Linked DNA regions of Homo sapiens. The protein of the gene in region 1 interacts with the protein of each later gene in a pairwise test. Each region holds a gene or a part of one and is shown in the gene's direction. Other genes may lie near its edges.

The links.
Region 2: the proteins of ANXA8 (region 1) and RDH12 interact in a two-hybrid assay, tested with the Homo sapiens proteins (one large-scale study listed by IntAct).

What each region holds. Positions count from the first base shown.
Region 1 is NC_000010.11:47,467,493-47,470,804, reverse strand, and holds the end of ANXA8 (annexin A8), read left to right. Parts: intron 1-1,898; coding exon 1,899-1,958; 3' UTR 1,959-2,812; downstream 2,813-3,312. UniProt on the Homo sapiens protein: This protein is an anticoagulant protein that acts as an indirect inhibitor of the thromboplastin-specific complex, which is involved in the blood coagulation cascade.
Region 2 is NC_000014.9:67,725,886-67,729,385, forward strand, and holds part of RDH12 (retinol dehydrogenase 12), read left to right. Parts: intron 1-165; coding exon 166-270; intron 271-1,095; coding exon 1,096-1,305; intron 1,306-3,006; exon of another isoform or gene 3,007-3,305; coding exon 3,306-3,495; exon of another isoform or gene 3,496-3,500. UniProt on the Homo sapiens protein: Retinoids dehydrogenase/reductase with a clear preference for NADP. Displays high activity towards 9-cis, 11-cis and all-trans-retinal. Shows very weak activity towards 13-cis-retinol.

The sequences.
Region 1 (3,312 bases):
AGTTCTGGAGCCTTCAAAACACAGACTGATTATCACGCTGCGATAATTGGGAGAAACAGCTCTTCTGGGGGTGTCTGCAAATTGAGGTCTTGATGATTTCATTAGCAGAAGTCACATTAGGACAAATGTATCCCCAAGTTTTCTTTGGCTACTAAGTCAAGTCTCTAGCTCTTCTGCAAATGTCGTTGTTAAGTGCACTTTTCAAGAAACACATAGCTGACAATAGGTGGAAAAGACATTTCTGTTTCCAGATGTTTCAAGATGGCAACATCTTGAAACAGGTGGGCAGGGGCAAGAGAGGATTGGAATTATTCTTGGTTTCACTTGAGGCTCCCCAGCCAATCTTGTCGGGAGACAGGAGGGCAAGGCACACACCAGCCTGGACTGTGCTGTCACCTGCAGACAGTCTGAGCTGATTGTCATTAACCCTTTTAACCACACATGGTAACTTACGGCATCAGAGAGATTTCTACAGATACATGAAGCCACCCTCTTCAAATTTTATCTAATGTTGTTACTTAAGAAAATTGAGTTAGAATCATGAATACATTGACCAAACGTTTCTTTTTAGTGTAGACCACAGATGTCATTAAAGCAAAAATGGTTTTCAACACTAATATGAGTTAAAAACTCCTGCATTGAAATTAAGAGGCAAATGTATAAACACTCCAAGTATAACTCATGTATTTGAAAAAGTAAACAAAATTAATGCTTTTCTTTCTAAAAACTATTCGAAAAATTGTCCTCAAAATAATAAAAATCACCAGGCGTAGTGGCCCACACCCGTAATCCCAGTGCTTTGGGAGGCCAACGCGGGAGGATCGCTTGAGCCCAGGAGTCCAAGGCTGCCGTGAGCTAGGACTGCATCACTGCACTCCAGCCTGGGTGACAGAGTGAGATCGTGTCTAGAAAGGAAAAAGTTAAAAAAAATTTCATTGTAGTTTGAAACCCGTAATGAGATTTCAGGCTCAAAACAGGCAAATTTTACTAAATGGTGAAAAGTAGACAATAACCATGAGACCTAAACTGGTCCAGAGTGTGGAAAGTGGGTCTAGCCCCAGTCTACCCCTTACTCACCATGCCGTTGTGAATGAATTCACTCCCCTCTCTTGGCCCCGCTGTCCTCAACTGCATGAAGAAGAATCTGGGTGATCTGACCTGGCCCATTTCCCAGCTCTGTATGCAGACCCCGGACTAGCCAGTCCCATCAGGACCTACCACTATCTAAGAAACAGGGCTCCTCAGTCATCGGACCACAAGGTCAGTCTCATCAGGAGACAAACACTGTGGACCCGATGTGAGCCAGATGCAGGGCAGACCAGCTCGCCTTCCTCCTGCTGTACCCTCACCACGTCTCAGCAAGATGCACAGCAGCACAGCATTGATCTCATTTCATAGATGAGTCCCACAGAGGTGAAGGGGCTTGCCTCGGCCACACCGTCAGGGTGCGATGGTCCAGGCTCCCTCCACCCCCGGCCCTGCCCCCAGGTGTGTGCTGATGCCTCACTCTCAGCCTTGATTCCCAAGCTGCCACAGCAGGTGTTGAATAATGATGCATCCTGTTGTGTAAATGAATGGCTGGGCACCCTGGCTCCCGAATAGAAGAACCCTGGGACAGCTGACCCCTTCCTTGTTTAGGAGTGGAACTGTCTCTGATTCATTTTCCACATCAATCCTGCATGTAGTTGGTAAGAGAATCAAAAGGAAATGTAAAGGAATAGCCTGAAATTAAAAACAAGGAAAGAGGGGTGATGGCACAACCCCTGCGGCTAGGAACCCTGGAGGGCCGGGCCAGGTGCAGGCCAGGGGCACACCTCTTAGTCATAATAACACAGCCGCCACTGCCGAGCCAGGCACAAGCAAACCCCTTCTCACGCTTATGCGCCTCCTGCCCACAGGAAGACACCAGCGGTGACTACAAGAACGCCCTGCTGAGCCTGGTGGGCAGCGACCCCTGAGGCACAGAAGAACAAGAGCAAAGACCATGAAGCCAGAGTCTCCAGGACTCCTCACTCAACCTCGGCCATGGACGCAGGTTGGGTGTGAGGGGGGTCCCAGCCTTTCGGTCTTCTATTTCCCTATTTCCAGTGCTTTCCAGCCGGGTTTCTGACCCAGAGGGTGGAACCGGCCTGGACTCCTCTTCCCAACTTCCTCCAGGTCATTTCCCAGTGTGAGCACAATGCCAACCTTAGTGTTTCTCCAGCCAGACAGATGCCTCAGCATGAAGGGCTTGGGGACTTGTGGATCATTCCTTCCTCCCTGCAGGAGCTTCCCAAGCTGGTCACAGAGTCTCCTGGGCACAGGTTATACAGACCCCAGCCCCATTCCCATCTACTGAAACAGGGTCTCCACAAGAGGGGCCAGGGAATATGGGTTTTTAACAAGCGTCTTACAAAACACTTCTCTATCATGCAGCCGGAGAGCTGGCTGGGAGCCCTTTTGTTTTAGAACACACATCCTTCAGCAGCTGAGAAACGAACACGAATCCATCCCAACCGAGATGCCATTAACATTCATCTAAAAATGTTAGGCTCTAAATGGACGAAAAATTCTCTCGCCATCTTAATAACAAAATAAACTACAAATTCCTGACCCAAGGACACTGTGTTATAAGAGGCGTGGGCTCCCCTGGTGGCTGACCAGGTCAGCTGCCCTGGCCTTGCACCCCTCTGCATGCAGCACAGAAGGGTGTGACCATGCCCTCAGCACCACTCTTGTCCCCACTGAACGGCAACTGAGACTGGGTACCTGGAGATTCTGAAGTGCCTTTGCTGTGGTTTTCAAAATAATAAAGATTTGTATTCAACTCAAAGTATCTTTGGATGTTTAGCAGGGACCAGTGTAGGACCAATTTAATTTGTCAGAAACAGAGCTTTGGGGAGCCACGAAGCCTGAGCGCCTCGTGGGCATCTCCCAGTGGGAACACTGGATGGGCTGTACCTGAGCACCTCATGGGCATCTCCCAGTGGGAACACTGGATGGGCTGCAGCCACCGCTGCCCTGGGGACAACTCTTGCAAATGAGGGTAGATTCTATTCACCTCCTGATGTGTAGGCTACATCCTTGTATCTCAGGGTTAGAGAGGGATTTAAAGTCAGCTGGTGCTGTTCCAACCTGTGGCCTGACTACCCCCTTGGCATCCACCCAGGGGTGGTCCTTGGTGTGCTTGGGGTGCACTTGGGTACTCAGGGTGTACTGGCGATACTCAGGGTGCAGTTGAGTACTCCGGGTGCACTTGGCTGCCTCCAAAGATGGGACTCACTGCGTCCTTTGACAGCCCAATCTTTTTCCAATGGATGTGACCAGCAAAGT
Region 2 (3,500 bases), on another chromosome or scaffold:
AATACCTTGTTTTAAAAGGAAGGGGCAGAGCAAGTGACTCCTATCAAAATGTTACCCCAACAAAGACAACTAATGAACAAAGGGAAAGGGCAATTATGCAGGTCTGTTACAGGCAGCTAGGGGACTCCTTGCTAACCATAGGATCTCTTTGGTTGTGCCCTATAGAGGAAAAGCAGCTCCATATTCTGATCAACAATGCGGGAGTAATGATGTGTCCATATTCCAAGACAGCTGATGGCTTTGAAACCCACCTGGGAGTCAACCACCTGGGTAAGTATCTTTGGGTGACTAAAAAATGAGGTACACCCACTATCTTTTCTTTAGGAAGATGACACTGTGTAAATGTGGAGAATGTCCAGGGGCCTTCATAGAGCCTAGGAATTCCAATAGACTAGACCCATTGGCTTGTTGTTCACTGTACCTCTCCTGATCAGTCTAAAAAAGTGAGATCTTCCTACCCATACCATTAAGAAGCCCCAAATTTCAGGAAATACCAGGGAGAAGAATGTCATTCTTGGATGGGGCAGTGGCAGTACAAGGCTTGCCAGGCAGGGCCAGACCTGGGGTTATGCAGGCATCTGGGCTTGGCTGGAGGGGTCACATCTACATGATGGCCAACCAAGCCATGGGTTGGTCCACGGAGGTAGGCAATCCTTGAGAACTTGAGTACGAGGCAGGGTGGGGTTCAGCGTTCAAGGCAAAGACTTTAGGGAGGAGAGCATGGAGCATGTTTTCTGATCCTAAGCAAATGTTATCTTCCCTGACTGTTCTATCCTTCTGCCTATACACAAGTGTACCTGGGTCCCTAGTTATGCGATCATGGCCAGAGTGGGAGTTGGAAGCCAGCAGGTGGGTCAAGGGCAGAGGTACAAAGTAATATAATTAAGTATGATTGCCTTACTTGTAGTCTAGCTCTGGCTCTTGCTTTGAGGAATCCACAAACTCAGACCAAACTGACCATTAGAGTTACTCATGGCATCAAAATTGGTTCACACCCAGAAGATAGTGAGCTAACACTGAAGTCCTCTTGGCTCCCACATGCTGAGCCTGGGCTGTCATTCCACTTTCAATCTTCCCTGCTGGCTCTCCTCACAGGCCACTTCCTCCTCACCTACCTGCTCCTGGAGCGGCTAAAGGTGTCTGCCCCTGCACGGGTGGTTAATGTGTCCTCGGTGGCTCACCACATTGGCAAGATTCCCTTCCACGACCTCCAGAGCGAGAAGCGCTACAGCAGGGGTTTTGCCTATTGCCACAGCAAGCTGGCCAATGTGCTTTTTACTCGTGAGCTGGCCAAGAGGCTCCAAGGTAAGTCTGGAGAAAGAGGAATAGCAAAAATGGTCCTCAGACCAAATTAGAGGTCCACAGCAACTTGGGAAGTCAGGCTGTCAAACATGCACGTGTCAGTAATATCTCTGTGGACTAAGGAGAATGAAATTATGAATGGAATAAAAACAGAGTGCTTGCCCCCAGGGAGCTTAAAATCAAATAGGGGTTAAGAACCTCAAAAAGTTACCTTGTATTTGTGTCACATCTTATCTCTTATCTCATTTGATTTTCACAGTAGCTTTTTGCAACAGACAGAGGCTTTTTGTTTTTTTTGTTTTTTTTTTTTTGAGACTTGAGTTTCGCTCTTGTCGCCCAGGCTGGAGTGCAGTAGTGCGATCTTGGCTCACTGCGACCTCTGCCTCCTGGGTTCAAGTGATTCTCCTGCATCAGCCTCTTGAGTAGTTGGGATTACAAGCACGCAATATCACGCCTGGCTAATTTTGTATTTTTAGAAGAGACGAGCTTTCACCATGTTGTCCAGGTTGGTCTCAAACTCCTGACCTCAGGTGATCTGGCAGAAGAGGCCTTTGGTAACAGGTATTATTACTCCTAGTTTATAGAGCAGAGCTGAGGTCCAAGGAAATGGCCAGCTAAAGAGTATATGGCAGGTGAGGGCATCAGAACCGGAATGTGGGTGCTCAGCTTTAAACCTAGGGTGCTTCCTTCTGGGTGCCATTTGCTGAGGTCCACATGGTGATCTGAGCTACAGAGCTGCCACTGCCTGGACTCAGGGAGTTAGGGCTGGATTTCAGACCCCTGGGTCCAAGTTCTTGCTCTACCACATGCTAGCCGCATGTGGATGTGGATGTGGATGTGCCCCTTTAACCTCCCCTGACTTCATCTTCTCAGCTGTAAAATCAGGTCAGGCTGGTTCTTATTCCTTAATGATTCTGTGCTCTCCTGGAGCACTGGGTGAGCTGCTGGCTCTGACATCTGCGGATCTAGGGGTCCATTTGTTACAGTGAATAAGCCAGAGTTTGGGAACAATGATCTTCACTTCCAGAATGCCTACAGTAGAAGAAGACGGTAATCATAAAAATAAACAATAACTATTACAATAATAATTGAGAGGTTTATGTGTGCCATGTACTACACATCTTAACTCATTTAATACTTGCAACATTCCTGTGAGGTGGGTGCTATTATTTTCCCCCACTCTAAATATGAAAAGACAGGCACTGACAGATTAAGAAATTTGCCCAAGGAAGGTTCCTAGCTGAGCCAGGATTCAAATGCAGACAGTCCATTCCATGTTTTTAACTTTACATCAGAGTTCAGACCTTGGCCCTGCACCCTGCCAGGTATAACCTTAGGCAATTTACTTAAACTTTCTGTGACTTAGTTTTCTTTGTTGTAAATGGGTATCATAACATAATATTCTATTTTACAAGCCTCTTTAAGAATTAAATGAAATAATACATTTAAAGCATGTTGTATGGCCCTGGCACATAATTGGTACTGAAAAATAGTGACCGCACCAGGGATATCTTGTGGGGGGGGGGTGTTAATCCCCCACAATCTGCATCACCATCCCTCAATCTATACCTCATGAAATGTGCTTGCCAGGCAAATGCAGCTCAAAATAAAGTCCTACCCACCACCTTCCAATCAGATCGCTACCCCTAAACTCCTCCTTTAGAAATGATAAAGATACCACTGTCAATGATTGATACTACTCACTACATGTTGTCATGTTTATTAGTAGTACTAAAGCCACAGTATAAAAACGACATTGAAATAGAAGGACCTCGAACCAGGCACTCCTTTTGGAACATAGAAGGCTGAGAAGGCTATAGATCTTTCTGAAAGATCAATTCATTCCTGTTCAAATTCCGCCTGGCCAGGAGTGGTACCTGCTGAATCCTGGGGTTATGTTTCCTGAGTCCCTCCTTCTCACTTGTGTATTTTGCTGCAGGAGATAAGCTGTTTTCCTGGGCTCAGAGTGTGTCCCTGATCTAATTGTGCCCTCTTTGTCCCAGGCACCGGGGTCACCACCTACGCAGTGCACCCAGGCGTCGTCCGCTCTGAGCTGGTCCGGCACTCCTCCCTGCTCTGCCTGCTCTGGCGGCTCTTCTCCCCCTTTGTCAAGACGGCACGGGAGGGGGCGCAGACCAGCCTGCACTGCGCCCTGGCTGAGGGCCTGGAGCCCCTGAGTGGCAAGTACTTCAGGTGTG